6 linked regions of the Homo sapiens genome follow. The protein of the gene in region 4 purifies or fractionates together with the protein of the main gene of each other region. This does not show direct contact. Each region holds a gene or a part of one and is shown on either strand. Other genes may lie near its edges. The genes, in order: AGRN, ATRN, GDPD5, MANEA, MAN2B1 and LAMA4.

Region 1 (3,500 bases), on a different chromosome or scaffold from region 4:
TGCACACACACACACACATGCTGATCTCACAGCACCAGGCACTGCACACACACACACATGCTGATCTCACACAGCACCATGCACTGCACACACACATGCTGATCTCACAGCACCATGCACTGCACACACACACACACATGCTGATCTCACACAGCACCATGCGCTGCACACACACACACATGCTGATCTCACACAGCACCATGCACTGCACACACACACACACTGATCTCACAGCACCATGCACTGCACACACACATGCTGATCTCACAGCACCATGCACTGCACACACACACACGCTGATCTCACACAGCACCATGCACTGCATACACACACACGATCTCACACTCACAGCACCATGCACTGCACACACACACGCTGATCTCACAGCACCATGCACTGCACACACACATGATCTCACAGCACCATGCACTGCACACACACACACACATGCTGATCTCACAGCACCATGCACTGCACACACACACACACATGCTGATCTCACAGCACCATGCACTGCACACACACACACGGCCACACAATGGGTATTCCTGGCCTGCCCAGCACCACCCCTGCTCCTTGACCCCCACTCTGCCCCATTCAGCCCCACTGCTGACCCCAGCCCCAGCCTCAATTCTCTCCCTCCACCTGCCCTCATAGACACGGGATGTCCCCCTCCCCCTACCTGCCTGCATAGACACTGATGTCCCCCCCACCTGCCTGCATAGACACTGATCCCCCCACCTGCCTGCATAGATATTGGGCATCCCCCATATCTTTGTGCAACATTAATTTTGTCCCTCAACCCCCACCCATACACTGGGAAGGCACGTTCTCCTCACCTCCCACCCATATGTTCCCGTGTGGACACAGGCACACTCTGGTTGGGCACCCGCAGGTACTTATCCTGCCCTCAGAAGGTGGGGGTTGGGGCCTGGAGTGGGTGGAGCACTGGGGCTCTCTGGCAATTGGCAGGCCCCAGAGGGGCTGGGGCTCGGTTCCTTCGGAAAGGGTGGCGTGGCTGTGGGCGCCCTTGGCCCACGAGGGGCTGGGGCTCGGTTCCTTGGGAGAGGGTGGCGTGGGTGTGGGCGCCCTTGGCCCACGAGGGGCTGGGGCTCGGTTCCTTGGGAGAGGGTGGCGTGGCTGTGGGCGCCCTTGGCCCACGAGGGGCTGGGGCTCGGTTCCTTCGGAAAGGGTGGCGTGGGTGTGGGCGCCCTTGGCCCACGAGGGGCTGGGGCTCGGTTCCTTCGGAAAGGGTGGCGTGGCTGTGGGCGCCCTTGGCCCACGAGGGGCTGGGGCTCGGTTCCTTCGGAAAGGGTGGCGTGGGTGTGGGCGCCCTTGGCCCACGAGGGGCTGGGGCTCGGTTCCTTCGGAGAGGGTGGCGTGGGTGTGGGCGCCCTTGGCCCACGAGGGGCTGGGGCTCGGTTCCTTGGGAGAGGGTGGCGTGGCTGTGGGCGCCCTTGGCCCACGAGGGGCTGGGGCTCGGTTCCTTGGGAGAGGGTGGCGTGGCTGTGGGCGCCCTTGGCCCACGAGGGGCTGGGGCTCGGTTCCTTCGGAAAGGGTGGCGTGGCTGTGGGTGCCCTTGGCCCATGAGGGGCTGGGGCTCGGTTCCTTCGGAAAGGGTGGCGTGGGTGTGGGCGCCCTTGGCCCATGCACCGCACACAGGCTCGAATGCAGACGCTGACTTCCGGTCCACCCAAACGCTCGGTGCCCCCAACCCCAACCAAGGAAAACAGCTGGCGTGGAGTGGTCAGTGCCCACAGGTGCCGCCAGCCAGGTGCAGGGCGGGGGGGGGGGGGGGGCGTTTCCCCACGGGAGAGAGAACGGCCAGCAGGGGAGACGGCAGCTCCGAGGCAGGAATCAGCTTGCTCCCAGCTGTGGGGTCACGGCAGCTGACGACTGCGCCCCAGCCCTCTCTTCCGCCCCGTGTCCACAGCCTCTTTCTCCCACGGTTCTCTGCACGGGCTTTCACCCCTCAATGCACAGCTCCTTCCCGGCTTCCCTGGGAAGCCCCGTGGAGGTGCCAACCGTGAGTGTGTGAATGGGGAAGGCACTGATGATGAAATCAGTGAAGGTCATGGTGAGCCCTGCTCACACCCCAGCCTCCCCTGGGGAGAGAAGGGGGCACAGCCCCTCCCCACCAGCTGCTGTGGGCCGGGGCGGCCGTGGGCCGGTGTTTGTGCTTGTGCTTCTCCAGCGGGGGGTGCGTGGGAGCCTCCCACCTGCGGACACGCAGGGGCTTGCTTCTCCTAGGGCCCAGTGTGAGGGTGGCCAAGGTGGCTGCCAAACGGCGGGGCAGGGAGGCTCAGGCCAGCGACAGACCCCCGCTCCCACCCTGACCAGGCCTGGTCTGACTCCCAGACTGCCCTGCTGCCCCCAGACAGAGTCCCATCTGGGCAGGGGTGGGCATCTGTGTCAGTCTCGAGGTCCCGCAGGCATGTGAGGGACTGTGACCCAGGACCCTCTCCTGTCCTCACTGCCGCCCCAAGGGACCCAGCATGCCTTCATCTCAAACCTTCAGAAACCACACTGGTCATCTCAGAGGCAGCACCTGCAGAAGGTCCTGGGCCCTTTGCCAGACACGGGGCAGCGTGCTGGACGCAGTGAGCAGGGGGCAGGAGAGTGGACAACCAACAGCAAGCTGAGGCGAGACACGTGCACGAGGACAGAGGAAGAGCCCAGCTCCGAGGCCCCCTGGACAGGCCAGGGTCACCCACCACCAGCCTCACACCTGCAGCACCAGCCCGGGCTGAACCCAGGGACATAGGGTGGTAAGAACCATGGCCCACTAGTGGAGGCTCCAGGCAGAATTCTGAAGTGCACAGGCTGGTACATCTGAGGCTGCAGGCACGTGCACACACATGCGTGTACACACACACACAAACACATGCACACACGCAGGCCACACAGCTGGAAACAGCCGGCTGCCTGTAGGACACAGCACGCCCCTTCTCCCACGCCTCTGCTCCGTGGGGGGACTGCAGGAGGAGGGGGCTGGGAGGGGCCGTCTCCCTTTCCCAGGTCCTGCTGTGAGCTGCCCCTGGCAGGGGGCCTTCCTCAGAGGAAGTTCCCAGGATCTGTGCTGGGGGGAGAGGCCCCTTCGGGGGGGCTTCCCTCAGTGCTGCAGGCTCCGCTAGAGACCTGCCTCATTCCCTAGATCCCAGCCACAATCTTGCCACAGCCTGAGGGGCGCACAGGACTGCTCTGAGCCCCAGTGCAGCTCCCAGCAGCTCACCCAGCAGGCAGGAGGTGCAGGGGTACAGAGCCTCCTCCTCCAGCGGGCGACTGTCCATGGGGTGATATCTCAGCCCTGCACTTCCTTTTTCTCATCTCTGAGGGGCAGGCACCTCCTGGGACCCCGGGGTTCCATCCTGAGGTGGGCAGGCCACCACGGTGTTTCCGTCTGCAGCCCCAGCCCCGCTGGGCTTCGGGGGCCCTGGGGAGCCCAGTCCAAGTGGGGAGGGGGTGCCAGAACCAGGACTGCAGGGAGGGGGTCCGTTCCT
Region 2 (3,500 bases), on a different chromosome or scaffold from region 4:
TCTCAGCTCACTGCAAGCTCCTCCTCCCAGGTTCACGCCATTCTCCTGCCTCATCCTCCCAAGTAGCTGGGCCTATAGGCGCCTGCCACCATGCCTGGCTAATTTTTTTTATTTTTAGTAGAGATGGGGTTTCACCGTGTTAGCCAGGATAGTCTCAATCTCCTGACCTCGTGATCTGCCCACCTGGGCCTCCCAAAGTGCTGGGATTACAGGCATGAACCACCACGCCCAGCCAAGAATGTTTTTTAAAGCAAGCAAATTTTACATTCTACAAAGCTTATGTCAGCAAAACATGGGTTTCATAATTATTTTCCACTCTTTTCTATATTGATTTGCTCAAATTTAGTAGCTAAAATGGAAAAATAAAGGTGGAAAATGAAATTTCAAGAAATTTAAATGTCACCTAATTTTTACAAAGTCCTTTCCTAGATCCCATAGATTGATTAATTTTCCCTTGTTGTGACCCATACTAGCAACTTCTCTTCTGGATCTAATACCAACTGGTGCTGCTATACCATGCCAACCTCACACTCAGTGTCTCACTCTTTGAGCCCTTAAATATGTGCCGGTCTTTTCCACCTCTGTGTCTCTGCAAACTGGGTTTCCTCTGCCTGGAGAGTGCTGCCTAACTTCACCTACCTGACACCTAGTGTCCCCAAGGACCCAGAGAGGATGGCCCCTCCTTAAGAAAGTGTTCCCTGTTTATCACTCTACCCTCCATGACTTAAAGGGTACTCAGAGGTGCTCTCATACATTCTTTTCAGCCAGAAACACCCTGAAGTGCAATTCTATTGTCTGCTCATTTCTCTACCTCTTCTACTTTGAGGCTAAGGGCTTTAAGTTATTCATCTGATCTCCTCAATGTACAAACTGAGTGGCTGGCACACAAATGTCTGTTAAAAACGAATGTCTGACTTGGAATAGTCAAAATCACAGAGACAGACTGTAGAATAGTGGTTGCCAGGCATTGTGGGGAGGAAGAAATGGGACATTATTGTTTAATGGGTATACAGCTTCAGTCTTACAAGATGAAGACAGTTCTGAAGATGGATGGCGGTGATGGATTTATAACATTATGAATGTGTTTAGTATCACTAAACTAGACATTTAAATATAGTTAGGATGGTAAATTTTATGTGTATTTTACCACAATCAAAAAAATAATAATTTGTTTAAAATGAACATCTGACAATTTTTATGAAAGAGATCATCCGGTATGCATTTGCTTTGCATGAACAAATACTGCCCTCTTCTGGTCTGGTATATTGCCACACCAAGACCATGTGAGAAACCAGTTTTCTAGGGAATGAGATAAAGCTAATACGTGAACCAATTTTAACACAATGCTGGTGGTTGCAACTATGTAACACTACCAGGTAGGCATAACATGACAAAGGAGAGACTAGACACCTCAACTCAGCCTTAAAAATTAGCATTCAAGCAATTAACAGGAGTGATTTCAAAAAGAATTTAATGTAGAAATAATTTTTACCAGATGTGTAACATTAGTCAAATGAATATAAAAAATACCATTTGGACCTCTTTCAAATGGCCTGATCATTTTGAACTGGCAATATTTTCAGTCTCCTTTTAAATGCTGCTTATAGTATAGGCAAAAAGATGCCTGAAGAGAAAATGGTTTTGGGAAACTTACCAATGTCATAGGCCATGAAATCTGAAGAGAAGCATTTGGCGCCATGGCTCATAGATGTGTCATTGTGTGTGTTTCCTCCAAACACCAGCATGGTTCCACTCACTATCACAGCTGTGTGCAAGTAACGGAAAAATCGGCTGTCCTTAAGAATGGTCCTTTTGAGTTTATTTAGAAATAATAAATACAAGGTTAGTTTTTAAAGAATATTTATGTATCTGCTAATGCAAGCACAACCACTTTATTAACCTCAGACCCAAATGTACAAATCCTTCCAGAGTTTTCCCTACATAAAAGTAAGTTTTTCAACAATAAATACAGATAATTTTAAAGACCTGTAAGAGTTTTGGCAAAATATATTAAGAACCTTAAACTCTTCATACCCCGTAGCTATATAATTCCAGTTTCTGGGCAGAAATCATGTGAAATATTGACAGAAGCTTAATGCATAATGGTTTCTTAATGACATAAAAACTAGAAAGAAACCAAAACTTTCACCTGCATAGTCTCAGCATACCCACAAAATGGAGTATTGCACAGCTACTAAAAATGATTATTTTTATGACAGAATATAAAACAGTACCCATAGCAAGGTATCAAACATGTGAGGAAAAAGAGGAGAAACCATCGCTTTATAATTACATTATTTCGTAACTCAAATTTGCTTTACATTTGTTAAAAAACTCTAAGTATTTTCTAACCAACCTGCTACAGAATTACAGAATAACGTAACAAAATAAATACTAGCTACTTTATTACCCTCTGTTTATTTCCCAATTTCTCTATATATAATGCCGAACAGAATTATCTGCCAGGCATGAAAACAAAAAGATAGCACAATATTTTCTCCACAATTGCCTCTACAGAATTTACACCTTAAAGTGAAAGCTCAAGAAAAAGTACCCACCACATCTGGGTATCCACATCATATCGGTAGAGATCATCTGCAAGCCGGTACTTATTGGCACTGAAAGCCTTGTAGCCACCATGAACGTATAGGGCCCTGGTCCTATGGTCGTAAACACTGCTATGGCCGTAACCCCCTTGCACAAGGGCACCCTGGGTGTGTAATATACTCCATGTGTTCTTATCTGGAAAGGAAAGACAGTTAAAGGCAAGCATGGCAGGCTCCTCCTCTCTACTACTGAAAATGTCCAAAGAGCTTAGGGCATGAGAATGGATTTCAGGAGACCTGATACATATACTTTTTTATCTTTATATTTTAAAGAAAGCCACCTAAAACTTATAACAAAGCCATGTGGCCCAATTCCAGTCTGTTCTATGTTCTGATGTTCTAATATGCCATGTAGGAAAAGAATTAACTAAATTTAAAACACTCAGGGCCAGGCGAAGTGGCTTACATGTGTAATCCCAGCACTTTGGGAGGCTAAGGTGGGAGGATCACTTGAGGCCTGCTATGTTGGCCAGCCTGGGCAACATAGCAAGATCCCATCTCTACTAAAATTAAAAAATTAGCCAGGAGTGGTGGCACGCACCTGTAGTCCCAGCTACTAGGGAGGCTAAGGTGGGAGGATCACTTGAGGACAGGGCATCAAGGCTGCAGTGAGCTATGATTGTGCCACTGCACTCCAGCCTGTGTGAGAGAACAAGAGCCTGTCTCAATAAATAAAATGTTCACTCAAATGAACATTTAATTCCCTACAACCTTTGGTGACCAATATACAGATATATTTTATAGGCCTACTTTCACAAAATGTTAATTATACCTGGTATTCCTACTGCACAACAACAGATACAATGAAATTTAACCAAGGGAAATATTTCATATTAAGGGTAAATCATACTCCACTAAACCAATCTCTAAAGGGCTGGGCAAATATTTTTTTTC
Region 3 (3,500 bases), on a different chromosome or scaffold from region 4:
GGCGGGTCACGCAGGTTGAGCAGCAGTGTGGCATTGCCCTTGGCCAGCTCCAGGAGCTCTGCCAGGCTGCAGATGGACTGGTTCTGGGCCTCTCTGTGGTCGGAGGGTGACAGGGAGCTGGCTGTCCAGAAGGGGTCAGTCTGGCAGGGACAGGGACACACACATGGCTGCATCATCAGCCCTTTGGGGGCCCCCACATACCCTTCTGGCAACCAAGCGTGGAGACCCCTGGGCTGCCAGAGTCTGCTGGGGTCAGGCAGATTGATGGCTGTGGCCATGTGGAGGCTGTAGGAGGCCCCAGCCCTAACCTTTCTACCCCACACCCTGCTTACCAAGAGGACGGAGGACGGCTTGCTTGGAATCGCTCCCAGACCCACAGCATTTCTCCTTCTAGAGCATTTCAGATCAGAGAGCCAACCCCTCTCTAGAGTTTTACAGAGTTAAGAATTCTATTCACTGCTCTCATCCCTGTCAACCTTTTCTAGTGAGGGAAATGGACCCAGAACAAGCAGTGACAACCATGAGTCTGGCAGCAGTGGCAGGAGCCTAGGAGGCCACTAAGCAGCTTGGGTGGAGGTCGCGAAAGCTCTGAGAGTGGGGGTCTCGAAGCTGATGGCCACCCTTGCACCTCTCACTCCTTGCAGTCCCTGCTGGTGTTTTCCATGCCTAAGATTGGGATCAGGTGCAGCCAGACCTTCAGGAACCACTGGCCAGCGTTGAGTCTCTGCAGGGTGGTCCAGTTAAGCATGGAGGCAGGCCTGCGGGCCAGCTCCGGGAACTCCTCCTCCACGTTGGTGGTGCGCCGCAGGGTGGTGTCATGCATGAGGAAGGGCACGCCGTCCAGGCTGCAGGGAGGGTGGGGCCACCGAGTCAGTGACCCCCCAGATCCTTTACCTGCCCACCAATGATCGTCACCCCACACAGTCCTCCCCACCCAGCACAGGATCCCGGCTGGCTCTGCCCCTCTCTGGGCCTCAGTCTCCCCATCTGCACAGGGAAGACAGTGGGCTGGTGGGTGACCCTGAAGGTCCAATGCCTTCTGGCTCTCTGTGAGGGTCAGATGGGGGTGGGGACTGCCAAGGAGGGAGGGCTGGGAAAAATCTGGACCTACTCTCTTAGCAACCTTGGAAGGTAGGTGCTGCCTCATTTGACAATGGAGAAACTGAGGCTGAGAGAGGGAAGTATCTAGCTCAAGGTCCACAGCCTGTAAGTGGTGGAACCCAGTTTGGAACCAAATCCCTGTGATGCTATGATGAGAACAGTGCAAATGTAGACCTCTTTGGCAAATTCCACCCAACCCCAATCCTTGTCTACTCTACCAGGGTTGCAAATAGCTCATATGGTGCCTTAGTGTGAAACAGTAAAAGGTACCTGTGCCCTCTGTTCCTCAAGGCATTTTACCACCATCTGCTAGAAAGTTGTGATAAACACACAATTCTATGTCTATACTGGGAACAATGTCCTCATTTATGTGATGCCCTTGTTCAGTATGCAACCTGTACAACTATATATGACAGTTCTGCCCTTCTTCCCTTCTCAGATAACCTCTGTTATGAGATTAGTATGGATTCTTCCTGCCATTTATACTAATATCTACTTATATATGTACATGGAGAAAGTGTATATGTCACTTTTTTGTGGTATTTTAAAACGTAACTGGAGTCACAGTGAATGTATCACTCTGCAACTTGCTTTATTTCCCTCATGAGAGTGTTGTAGCTCTATCATCTATTTTTCCCTTCAAGTGGCTCTGTGGCAGTGCTCCTGCTTGCACCAAGAGCATTTGTTCTTTCCTCTATTTTACATCCTGGAGTCTGCAGGAACAGGGTGCCTGCCCTGCTGTGGATAATCTAAGTCTTCCTCCTCCCATCTCAGAGGCTCTGAGACCAGAGGTTCCCCCAGCAGAGACCCAGGTGGATGCCGAAGCGTGTGGGAGGGGTAGAGGAACTATCTCCCCTCCGCTACACCTACCTGATGGTAATGTCAGCCTGGAGCCCGTACAGCTTCTGCTCGAGGGCCTTCCGGAAGGACATGAGCGTGTGCTCTGGAGCCAGCTGGGGAAGAAGGGGTGGTGAAGGGAGAGCCAAGATTCAGCTGATGTACCCTCCCCAGCCAATGGAAAGTCTTTCATGTTGGGAGGCTGGGCTAGGCCTGGTTCTAATTCTGGCCCCTCCACAGAGTAGCTGTGTGACCCTGGGCACCCACTCAGCTTCTCTGAAGTTCAGCTTCCTCATCTATTAAATCATGCCTACCTCATTGGTTTTACTGGGGGCGGGGGAGGCAGGGCTGGTTAGTGTTGATGCATATAAATGCCTGACATGTAGCTAGCACTTGACACATGGTAGCTATGGTCACTATGTTATCATTGCTCTATCCCAGGCACTGAGCTAGACACTGGGGCTGGAGGGCTTTTTTACAGTCCTCTGTGGCTCTCTGGCAGTCTTGGGCTGGGGCTGAATGTGAAATTCAGGTTATACCCTTGGTTATACCAAGGGTTATACCCTGAGACAAGTCCAGGGGGGAGACCTGGAAGAGAGGGTAGATGGGATGGTAGAGTTTCAGTGCGGGACCAGTTTCCTCATCTATATAAACATGACAGCATTATTTCCCTCCCTGGACTGTTACGTGAATTAAAAGCCTCTAGCACACTGCTTGATATACACAGTAAGTGCTTAATAAATAGCAACTGTTTTCCCCTTACATGATCCTGGTTCTAGCATTTTTTTAAGAGACAAGGTCTTGCTGTCACCCAGGCTGTAGTGCAGTGACACAATCACAGCTCACAACAGCCTCAAACTCCTGGGCTCAAGCAATCTTCCCGCTTCAACTTCCCAAATAGCTGGGACTACAGGTGCATGCCACCACACCCAGCTCTGGTTCTAGCCTTGACTCTGCCATTAACTATTGTCCTGACTTTGGGTATATTTCTCTGTGGGTCTCAGTTTCCCCATGTGCCCCTTAGAGATGTGTACTCATGAGGGTCTTTATGCTTAGGACAGTTGGGATTCAAGCCTCCCTAGTTGGGTCTCATCTGAGGACTGTCATACCCGTTGCTGCCACTGGGGGTCAGCACCAAACCAAGGATTGGGCGAAGACCAGGTCCATGAGGGATGGTCGGAGGGAAGGAGGGAGGGAGGACACCCCCGATCCCCCTGCCCTGCTCTGTCAGTGAAGAGGTGAGGTGGGAAGGATTCCCATGGCTGATCTCATTCATTCCCACTGAAGACAATCCTGTTCCCACCTTCTCTCCCTCTGGCCACGATGTTCCCCAGCCACTCCCCTCTTTTGTGACACAGCCTAGCACTGGGGAGCCAGGGAGTGGTGAGGGCTTTGGAACGGACTAAAAAGGTGCAATTTCACTTCCCAGACACAGAGCTGGGGCCTCAGTTTCTTTAGCTGTAAAATGGGCTAACATTATCAACCTCACAGGTGAGATAACAAAAGTCACAGACCCTAGCCCAGGACCTGGCACACAGCAGGGTCTCAGTAATGAGTTTCTT
Region 4 (3,500 bases):
TGATTTGAACCAGCCTGGAGCAGAACCATCATAAGCCAGTTCATAGATTTTATGTTCGAAAAGCAAATGTTTGTCTTTTAGAGCCACTGAGATTGTGGGGTTGTTACATGGCATTATCTAATCAAAACTTGACTGAATTAAATCATTCATCTAAGTAAAAGAAAATTAGGCAGATTCAGTGATTTTTTTTTTTTTTTTTTTTTTTTTTTTGCTTAGGATTATAGGGGAAAGAACCAACTCAGCCCTGGTGATCTTCTTTCATTTTAATAAATTTAGTATGTTATTTTAAAGTAGCATATTTTCTTTCTACTTTATGCAGAAATCACATTTCTTATACTAGGTTTATCAACATCCATTATTTCTTTGCATATGGCTCTAGAGTCATTTTATCTGCTTTTCAGGCTTATGCAGATTTCAACCATGTGAAACATGAATATAAGTATGTCCGTGATTCTTTTTTAAATGATTTTCACCTACATTTGAAACATGTTATATTAGTCATGGCCTCTCCTTTTTCTTTTTCCTTGTTAAATGAATATTGTGAATTCATGGCAGAAACTTTGGGAATCTTACCTAAATCCAGTATAAGTGACAGACTTAAGAGTTTAACTGTTGTTTGTTTTTGCATGCAAATCATTAGTCCATTTATTTATGCATGCATTCATTCATTTAGCACCTGCTACGTGTCAGATACAGTCCCAGATGCTGACAATATTAAGAAGAAGGATGAAGTATTATCTCTTTCCCTAAAATGCCTTGTAATCTACTGGAGGTCAGACACAAAGACAAGTAAATTTCAGGAAGAGAAAAGTATGAGGTATTATGGCACCACATAGGAGTAGGAAGACCTACCTCAATTTTGTTGTGGCAGGGGATAGGGGAGTGTGCAGGGGTGAAGGTAGAGAATAGAGTTGGAGAAGGAGAAAGTTATCAGATTTTCATTCAAAAAAGTTCATTTTATTAAAATTTATTTATTAAAGTTATTAAAATGCAGGGTAGGGAAGAGACAGGAAAGGTCAAAATTAAAAACATGAAATGAGGGAATGTTTATATTCTTATTCTTTAAAGATAAGAAAGACATTTCATTTTATGTATAGAATTCTGTTATTTTAAAATTTATTTTAACATTGATCTAATTGATTTTTCCAAATGGAATAGAGAGATGGAGACTAGATCACATCATTAATTAAAATTGCAAAGTAATGGCCGGGCGCGGTGGCTCACGCCTGTAATCCCAGCACTTTGGGAGGCCGAGGCGGGTGGATCATGAGGTCAGGAGATCGAGACCATCCTGGCTAACAAGGTGAAACCCCGTCTCTACTAAAAATACAAAAAATTAGCCGGGCGCGGTGGCGGGCGCCTGTAGTCCCAGCTACTCGGGAGGCTGAGGCAGGAGAATGGCGTGAACCCGGGAAGCGGAGCTTGCAGTGAGCCGAGATTGCGCCACTGCAGTCCGCAGTCCGGCCTGGGCGACAGAGCGAGACTCCGTCTCAAAAAAAAAAAAAAAAAAAAAAAAAATTGCAAAGTAATTTTATTATAATTAAGAAATTAGAAATACATGAGGGAAAATTTTAAATATTTTATACTTATCAATACTATATTTACTTTAAATATATTGATCTGCGCTTTACAAAAATAGCATGCTATTTGTTGTTTGCAGCTGTAAAAGCAAATTCATTTTGATATAGGATATTTCAAGTTGGATATTGCTTAAATATGGTGTCCTTTATGTATAAAATGGAAATTTAGAAAACACAGTGATGTAACTGAAGGAAGAATTACCCAAGGAAACATTATGTAATAGTATGAAAATACCTATACACTAGGCAATTTGCTTTCAACTGAATTTAAAAAGCAAATACCAAAGTTATTGAGAAATCTAGCTGCCCTAGCAGTTACTACCCTGGCAATACTAACAATATGCTGCAAAAATTAATTTGACCTTAGTTTTTTATGACAGAAACTTACTTTTATAATATTACTGTAATCTCATTTAAAGTAGAAAATTATATTTTTTTTAAATATTATTTAACTTTAAAATTAATTATGTGAAAACAAGTAGCACTGATTAATGTAAAATACATTTTGCTTTAATTGGGTAATTGAAAACAGAGGAGTTTCATATTGCAATAGAAGTCTCTAGTTCCATAAATACATCATAGAGCCTGAAACCTAAAATTAAAACAGTATCAATACATTTATTAGACTGCCATAAAGATTTTTAGTTGATGTTGGTAAGTCAGTAAAACTAGGAATAAAAGTGAAAATCCTCATTCTTTGTTTTATGAATCTGAAATAGATTGTCATCTAAGAGAAGTATCTTCTGTATTTTTTACCTTACTAGTTAGAAGTAGCATACAGAATGGTTTTACTAGCCATAATTAGTTTGTCTTGATTTATGTATAGCCAACCTTAAGTTAAAAAATTTTAGTCTGTGCACAGTATTTTAAAAATATTTGTAATTACTGCTCTCTATGTTTACATATATATATATAATGTATGTATGTGTGCGTATATATGTATGTAGGTGTGTGTGTGTGTGTGTGTGTGTGTGTGTGTGTATGGGATATCCAAACCATAAATACCTAGGCATCATGAAAAATGTCCTTTATAACACTAGTGGATATTATTTTTAAGCGATTTCATTATAAATTCTTTAATAGAAGTTAATGTATATTATTTTGTAAAATGCTGTTTTAATGATATGGAAGAATTTATATGTAAATAAATTTGCTAATGACTTCTATTTAAATTTAAGCTTAATGGTCACATGCCTGAAAAAAATCCAGATTTTTCTGGACCATATTTTTTTGGTCTTTTTCCTAAAAGAAACATATATCTGAATATAGAGTATTTCCTATATATATTATATGGGATACAAATATGTAAGAAACATTTTTATAAGGAGTAAACATAAAAAGAAGCATTGCACAGCAGTTAAGCATTTGAACTCGGAATTCAGATCATCAATATTACCTCCAACAAACTGGGTGACCTGGAACAACTTACTGAACCTTTCTTAAGGTTCTGTCTATCTTTGATTACCTCACTAAGAAAACAGAAATACCTTAGGGAGTTGTGAAGATTAACCAAGATAATAATATAAAATGTTTAGCATGTTATTTAGCAGTAAATTTTATTGGTAAAAATTCTCTGGTAGTTTCTGTGTTCAATAAATATTCATCTTTAATTAAGGTGATTAAATCAGTTACTTTATTAAATATATTAAGTATACTTCTAATTTTACATTATAGATAATTTATCCCCTAACTGATTTTATTGTTTGTTTTAGGTTACTTTTCACATAGAACCATATAGCAATCGAGATGATCAAAACATGTACAAAAATGTCAAGTATATTATAGACAAGTGAGTTTCTTCAATATTTATAAATATTGTTATATTATCCAGTGATAATTATTGTTTTAAGAATAGTACATTAAATTATATTTGAGATTTGAATGATTTATGATTATTCCATTTTTAATAAAATTAAATTG
Region 5 (3,500 bases), on a different chromosome or scaffold from region 4:
CCCGGGAGGCGGAGGTTGCAGTGAGCCAAGATCACGCCACTTTCTGCACTCCAGCCTGGGCGATAGAGCGAGACTCAGTCTCAAAAAAAAAAAAAAAACAAAAAACCCAGGCCAGGTGCAGTGGCTCACGCCTGTAATCCCAGCCCTTTGGGAGGCCAAGGCGGGTGGATTACCTGAGGTCAGGAGTTGGAGACCAGCCTGACCAACATGGCGAAACCCCGTCTCTACTAAAAATACAAAAATTAGCCAGGCATGGTGGCATGTGCCTGTAATCCCAGCTACCCAGGAGGCTGAGGCAGGAGAATTGCTGGAACCCAGGGGCAGAGGCTGTAGTGAGCAGAGATTGCGCCCCTGCACTCCAGCCTGGGCGACACAGCAAGTTTCTGTCTCAAAAAAAAAAAATAAAAATCCGGCTGGGCACAGTGGCTTATGTCTGTAATCCTAGTACTTTGGGAGGCCAAGGTGAGCAGATCACTTGAGTTCAGGGGTTTGAGACCAGCCTGGCCAACATGGTGAAACCCTGTCTCTACTAAAAATATGAAAATTAGCCAGGCGGGGTGGTGGGCACCTGTAATCCCAGCTACTTGGATAGCTGAGGCACGAGAATCACTTGAACCCGGGAGGTGGGGGGTGCAGTGAGCCAAGATTGCACCACTGTACTCTAGCCTGGGCTACAGAGTGAGACTCAGTCTCAAAAAAAAAAAAAGAAAAAAGAAAAATTAAAAAAAGAAAACACACACACATACACACACAAACCCATCTGTGGACCCTTTTCTGCCCAGCACATCCGGGCAACGTTTGATCCTGACACAGGGCTGTTGATGGAGATTATGAACATGAATCAGCAACTCCTGCTGCCTGTTCGCCAGACCTTCTTCTGGTAAGGGAAGATCACCAGGCCTGAGGGTGGGGTGGTGGTGCTCGGCATGGAGCTAGGGCCCCTTACCTGACTCTCACCTGCCCCAACTCCAGGTACAACGCCAGTATAGGTGACAACGAAAGTGACCAGGCCTCAGGTGCCTACATCTTCAGACCCAACCAACAGAAACCGCTGCCTGTGAGCCGCTGGGCTCAGATCCACCTGGTGAAGGTCAGGGACTAGGAATGATGAGTGGGCAGTTGGGAATGGGGAAGTTATGGAGCCCAAGAGGGTGGTGGGCCATGTGTAGAGTGAGGGTAGGGGAGGATTTACTTTTCCTTCAGATCAGTGGGCTAAGACCCACAGATCAGCGGGGGAAATATTTGAGGGTCCTTCCATAGAATTGATATTCATAGCTGGTCGTATGAGAGTCTCCCCATAGGACACATCATACAAAGCCATTCACATCTGCTGTGGACGTTTACATACTTAGTTTTGGAAATTGGGGGTGGGGCATTCCCACTTGGCCCATGAATCAGGAGAGCCAAATATCACTGCTTGAAGAATTCACCAAAGTCTGTAGTAAGAGGAGCTTCTATCTGGAGTGAATATTTGAGAGTCCACCCTTGGATTGATTGGGTTTGGGTGAGTCTCAGGGTGAATGCCTATGGGTGCATCTGGCTAGGAACAGTGGTTTCCCAGGGCCTCTCATTGATGTTTGACTTTCATAGATGACAAAACTCACATTTGTCCACATTCAAGAGCCTCGCGTTTCATGTGAGTCCCTTTGAGATGAATGTCTGCATATCTGTATATAGTTTTGCCTGTTCTAACAGAGTTACCCAAATTAACTGTGACTAGAATAAGATAGAAGATTATTTTCTTCTAACAAAAAGTCTGGCTGTTAGTCCAGAGAAAGTGGGGTGGTTCCATAATCACCCAGGACCTCCTCTTCTATCTTGTTGCTCTGCCTTCCCCAATATTCAGTTTCCACCTCATGGTCCAAGATAGCTGCTGAAGCTCCAGCCGCCACATTTGTGTTTGAGTCAGTAGCAGAGGGACAGGGGCAAGGAACATTGTTGACACCACTTGGATCACTTTCTATGGGGCAAACTGGTCACTCAGCTACTGATAGCCTCAGGGAAGACTGGACAATATAGTCTTTATCCCAGGTAGCCATGTGCCAAGCTAGAATCCTATTCTATGGGGCAATGGTGAACAGGAGGCGTTTATGCCACGCTCAAGAGTGATGTGGTAAGCCAGATGCAGTGGCTCATGCCTGTAATCACAGCACTTTGGGAGACTGAAGCAGGAGGATCGCTGAGCATAGGAGTTCAAGACCAGGTGGGAGCATTTGCTGATTAGGTGCCTACATAGTGATGCCCTGTCTCAAAAAAAAAAAAAAAAAAAGAGGCCGGGTGCAGTGGCTCACGCCTGTAATCCCAGCACTTTGCGAGGCAGAGGCAGGCAGATCATCTGAGGTCAGGAGTTCAAGACAAGTCTGGCCAACATGGATAGAAACCCCGTCTCTACTAAAAATACAAAAATTAGCCAGGGGTGGTGGCAGGTACCTGCAATCCCTCTACTCGGGAGGCTGAGGCAGGAGAATTGCTTGAACCCAGGAGGCGGAGGTTGCAGTGAGGCAAGATTGTGCCACTGCACTCCATCCTGGGCAACAAGAGCAAAACTCTGTCTCAAAAAAAAAAAAAGAAAAAAGAATTATGTGGGCCAGGCGCGGTGGCTCACGCCTGTAATCCCAGCACTTTGGGAGGCCGAGGCGGGCTGATCACGAGGTCAGGAGATCGAGACCATCCTTGCTAACACGGTGAAACCCCATCTCTACTAAAAATACAAAAAATTAGCCGGGTGTGGTGGCGGGTGCCTGTAGTCCCAGCTACTCGGGAGGCTGAGGCAGGAGAATGGTGTGAACCCGGGAGGCGGAGCTTGCAGTGAGCCGAGATCGCGCCACTGCACTCCCGCCTGGGCAAAAGAGCGAGACTCCGTCTCAAAAAAAAAAAAAAAAAAAGAATTATGTGGCGGTGACTGAAGGTTGACCTTGATGTAGGCCTTAATGGGGTTTATGGCCAGGGTTGGGGGACATTTGTAGGACTCACCTCTGCTCAGGTACAGACTGACATCCACCTCACCCGTGTGCCCGCAGACACCCTTGGTGCAGGAGGTGCACCAGAACTTCTCAGCTTGGTGTTCCCAGGTGGTTCGCCTGTACCCAGGACAGCGGCACCTGGAGCTAGAGTGGTCGGTGGGGCCGATACCTGTGGGGTGAGTGGCACAGGCTGGGAGAGGGGTGTGGAAGCAAGGGCAGAGGGGTTTATCCAAGGCTCACAACCTTGCCATCCCATTGGGTACAGCGACACCTGGGGGAAGGAGGTCATCAGCCGTTTTGACACACCGCTGGAGACAAAGGGACGCTTCTACACAGACAGCAATGGCCGGGAGATCCTGGAGAGGAGGTGGGGGGTGACTGAGAGCACTGAGGGGGTGGTCTGTGGTGTGTTGGGGCCCAGGGGTGGTGAGGGAAATTTGCTGATTACATGAGTGTGGGAGACAGAGGACGAAGGGAGAGTGAAGGGCGGGGGAGCCAGGCAGGGTGCAGTGGCTCACGCCTGTAATCCCAGCACTT
Region 6 (3,500 bases), about 17 Mb from region 4:
TGGTTCTCAAATACTAGTGTGCATTAGAATCACCTGGAGGCCTTGTTAAACAGACTGCTGGATCCCACTCCAGGAACTGCTGATTCAGTGGGCTCGGGACAGGGCCAAGAACTTGCATTTCTGACAAGTTCCTGGTGATGCTGCTGCTGCTTGTCTGGGAACCACACTTTAAGAACCACTGTTCAGTCAATGAAACTCTGGAAAAATTTATGCCATTCTCTTTGTTTTGAGTTTCTCTCATCAAGCTGTATTCTTATGACTGGTGCTTTTTTTTTTTTGAGACATAGTCTCGCTCTGTCGCCCCGGCTGGAGTGCAGTGGTGCGATCTTGGCCCATTGCAACCTCTGCCTCTCGGGTTCAAGCGATTCTCCCGCCTCAGCCTCCCGAGTAGCTGGGATTACAGGCGTGCACCACCATACCTGGATAATTTTTGCATTTTTAGTAGAGATGGGGTTTTGCCATGTTGGCCAGGCTGGTCTCAACCTCCTGACCTCAGGTGATCCACCAGCCTTGGCCTCCCAAAGTTCTGGGATTACAGGTGTGAGCCATCAAGCCCATCTGACTTGCGCTCTTTTCTATGTTTAGAAAACATAGAAGAGGAAGAAAACATAGAAAAGGAAAAAAGGTGGAAAACAATCTTCCTACCTTTTTTCCCAGTATTCCTCTTGACCTGTTATATCAGTTATATTAGAAATGCAAGCAGAACCTGTGCTATATGGTTAAAGGAACATTTGTATATATACCGTGGTCCCTGCCCTTTAGAAAAAGCCTGCTCTAGATACAATTTTTAGATCAGTAAGTACTATAAATGTCACAAAAATAGAAACAAACTGTGCTTTGGGCTTTGTTAGGTCCACGACTATGCCAAATGTCATGCTCGGGGTCAGGTTCGAGCCCATACTGAGGTCTGAGTGGAGTGGGTGGGTGGCTGAAAGAACACTTGAGGGATGTAGACAGGTGAAATATAGTTCTGTTCAGCAGCTCTCTCATCAGAAGCTCTCTCACACTGCCTGCTCTGTCTCGGCTGCTTGCTCTGGCTGCTCCCACACACAGCTGAGCAGTCGGCTTGCTCTTGCCTTCAGGGTTAGCAGCTTAACTTTCTCTCTTTCCAGGTACAAGCCAGTTCCTGGCTCCCCCATGCCTACCTTCAAGGCAACTGGCTCTCCCCTACAGGGGTCAGTAGCGTTACTCTCTCTTTGGGCACCAGCACGCCTGAGCCATGTTGAGCCCTGGCTCTCCCTCTGTCCGTCTGCAAGACAGGCGGCCTTGGCATTCTCTCTTTCTCTGGGCGCAAGAGCACGCATCCTGTGCATGGCATCGGCAGGGCAGTTATACATTTTCAAACAATAGTGGCTGTGAGCCAAGTATGAGCTTACACAAACAGGTTATATAACAAATGGAGTATGCACCTGTGCCCTAAACTAGCTGAGTCCGTCTGGCCCAGATGTCTGCCTCAACCTATTCCCTGATCAAAGCACATCTGTGTACCTTACAGGTTTTACTATTAATTTTGCAGGATTAAAAATCATTTCTCTTAGTTCTACCATATGTAATCCATGTTTATTGTCTACATCTGATTCTTGAAATATAATATTGAGTTATTTTCTTAAATGATTAATTTTTATTAACTGCAGTAAGAAATCTGACCGAGGTTGTCCCTCAGCTCCTGGATCAGCTTCGTACGGTTGAGCAGAAGCGACCTGCAAGCAACGTTTCTGCCAGCATCCAGAGGATCCGAGAGCTCATTGCTCAGACCAGAAGTGTTGCCAGCAAGGTAACTGATGAAAAGACTCATCAGTCAGTCAGCGGTAATAATAACACGAAGCTGAGCTCCAACTGCTTGGGCAGCTTCCAGAGCCTGGACCTTTCTGCTGTATTCTCCAACTCAGTAGTTCTCAGCCCCATTTGCTAATTAGAAACACGTGAGGAACACTGAAAACGAAACCAATTCCTGGTCCCAACCTGAAAGCAATAGATCAGACTCTGTAGAGAAAGGGCTCAGTACCTGTATGTTCTTTAAAGCTCCCAGGTTATTCTAATGTGTAGCCAGGTTTAAAAACCACAGAGTTAAACTAGTCAATAAAGCTAATATAGCAAAAGAAGTAAAGCCTCAATAAAAGCCTCAATTCGTTCTTATATTTTATGTTATTTTAACAGCTGCTTTAGTGCAATTACCATAATGGAATAATCTATCCCATCTGTCCTACCCCTTCAAGAAATTATCTGGTACAACACAAATTATGCAGAAGCTTTTACTGACCACCCGCAGGGTTAACTGAGGAATCACATACTGGCTAAGAGGAATAAACTCAACAAACACACTATATGTGTTTTGGGACACATATAGAAGCAACTTAGCAGAAGATAACTAGGGCTGGCATTTGTAGGAACATCTCCTGACATAGCAATTACTTTTCAATGTGGCAAAGTGGAGCTTGTTCTTGGACCTCTTGAATTTTTTTAATTGATTCATAGACCAGACTCACTTTTTATGACCAAAGTATATGGTTTTATTTTCTCAGTTAAGAATCGGCCTGAGCAGACTACTGGTCCTAATTACTGACAGAAAGAAGAGTTAGAAATCAACTATTTCGTAATGTAGAAGATTATTCTTGGTAAATAGACCTGACTTTTAAATGATGATAAATGGTCCCTTGTGACAAATTACCTTATTTAGATGCCCCAGTGAACATTTTCAAAAAAGGTTTATCTAAAGGTACATCAAGAAATGGCATTCTAAAAGCTAGGTTTTTATGAGTGCTTTCTTGTAATATTATTTCTATAAAGAGTATGACTTTGGGACCTTAATCACCTAAGACCATTTGCTAAAGACAGACTTAGCCCCACCTTTGGGAGTTGGGAGCTCACTCAGTGCCCCCAAGTGGGATGCTTTTCATGCAGACATGCACTATTCTCAGACTCTCACTTATTAATGTAAGACTTTAATCCCCCACACTGCTTGTTTATTAAGATGTATTGGTCTTGGCCGGGTGCGGTGGCTCATGCCTGTAATCTCAGCACTTTGGGAGGCCAAGGTGGGCAGATCCCTTGAGTCCAGGAGTTTGAGACCAGCCTGGCCAACATGGCAAAACCCTGTCTCTACCAAAATACAAAAATTGGCTGGGCGTGGTGGCGCACACCTGTAGTCCCAGTTACTCAGGAGGCTGAGGCACGAGCATTGTTTGAACCTGGGAGATGGAGGTTGCAGTGAGCTGACATTGTGCTACTGCACTCCGGCCTGGGTGACAGTGAGACTGTGTCTCAAAAAAAAAAAAAAAAAAAAGTATTAGTTTTTACTCAACTGATAACATAGGACAGCTGCACTCCAGTCATTTGGAAATAGAGCCTTGAGCTCACTGACCACCCACATTAGCCAAATCAATATTAATAAATTAATATAAAGATGCCTAATCATTTGGAAAGATTCAGATAAATGACATAAGTATACACAATCCATACACTTGTAAATACTCTAAAAATTATCCCTGAATCAGACCAGC

The links.
Region 1: the proteins of MANEA (region 4) and AGRN purify together in Homo sapiens (affinity purification with mass spectrometry; one large-scale study listed by BioGRID and IntAct). This does not show direct contact.
Region 2: the proteins of MANEA (region 4) and ATRN purify together in Homo sapiens (affinity purification with mass spectrometry; one large-scale study listed by BioGRID and IntAct). This does not show direct contact.
Region 3: the proteins of MANEA (region 4) and GDPD5 purify together in Homo sapiens (co-immunoprecipitation; one large-scale study listed by IntAct). This does not show direct contact.
Region 5: the proteins of MANEA (region 4) and MAN2B1 purify together in Homo sapiens (affinity purification with mass spectrometry; one large-scale study listed by BioGRID and IntAct). This does not show direct contact.
Region 6: the proteins of MANEA (region 4) and LAMA4 purify together in Homo sapiens (affinity purification with mass spectrometry; one large-scale study listed by BioGRID and IntAct). This does not show direct contact.

Annotation. Positions count from the first base shown.
Region 1 is NC_000001.11:1,026,620-1,030,119, reverse strand, and holds part of AGRN (agrin isoform 2 precursor), read right to left. Parts: intron 1-3,500. UniProt on the Homo sapiens protein: Isoform 1, isoform 4 and isoform 5: neuron-specific (z+) isoforms that contain C-terminal insertions of 8-19 AA are potent activators of AChR clustering.
Region 2 is NC_000020.11:3,561,518-3,565,017, reverse strand, and holds part of ATRN (attractin isoform 1 preproprotein), read right to left. Parts: intron 2,743-3,500; coding exon 2,559-2,742; intron 1,810-2,558; coding exon 1,655-1,809; intron 1-1,654. UniProt on the Homo sapiens protein: Involved in the initial immune cell clustering during inflammatory response and may regulate chemotactic activity of chemokines. May play a role in melanocortin signaling pathways that regulate energy homeostasis and hair color.
Region 3 is NC_000011.10:75,442,442-75,445,941, forward strand, and holds part of GDPD5 (glycerophosphodiester phosphodiesterase domain-containing protein 5), read right to left. Parts: intron 2,055-3,500; coding exon 1,972-2,054; intron 846-1,971; coding exon 695-845; intron 141-694; coding exon 1-140. UniProt on the Homo sapiens protein: Glycerophosphodiester phosphodiesterase that promotes neurite formation and drives spinal motor neuron differentiation.
Region 4 is NC_000006.12:95,601,535-95,605,034, forward strand, and holds part of MANEA (glycoprotein endo-alpha-1,2-mannosidase), read left to right. Parts: intron 1-3,292; coding exon 3,293-3,369; intron 3,370-3,500.
Region 5 is NC_000019.10:12,649,743-12,653,242, reverse strand, and holds part of MAN2B1 (lysosomal alpha-mannosidase isoform 1 precursor), read left to right. Parts: intron 1-782; coding exon 783-880; intron 881-972; coding exon 973-1,090; intron 1,091-3,020; coding exon 3,021-3,139; intron 3,140-3,228; coding exon 3,229-3,330; intron 3,331-3,500. UniProt on the Homo sapiens protein: Necessary for the catabolism of N-linked carbohydrates released during glycoprotein turnover. Cleaves all known types of alpha-mannosidic linkages.
Region 6 is NC_000006.12:112,143,068-112,146,567, reverse strand, and holds part of LAMA4 (laminin subunit alpha-4 isoform 1 precursor), read left to right. Parts: intron 1-1,634; coding exon 1,635-1,774; intron 1,775-3,500. UniProt on the Homo sapiens protein: Binding to cells via a high affinity receptor, laminin is thought to mediate the attachment, migration and organization of cells into tissues during embryonic development by interacting with other extracellular matrix components.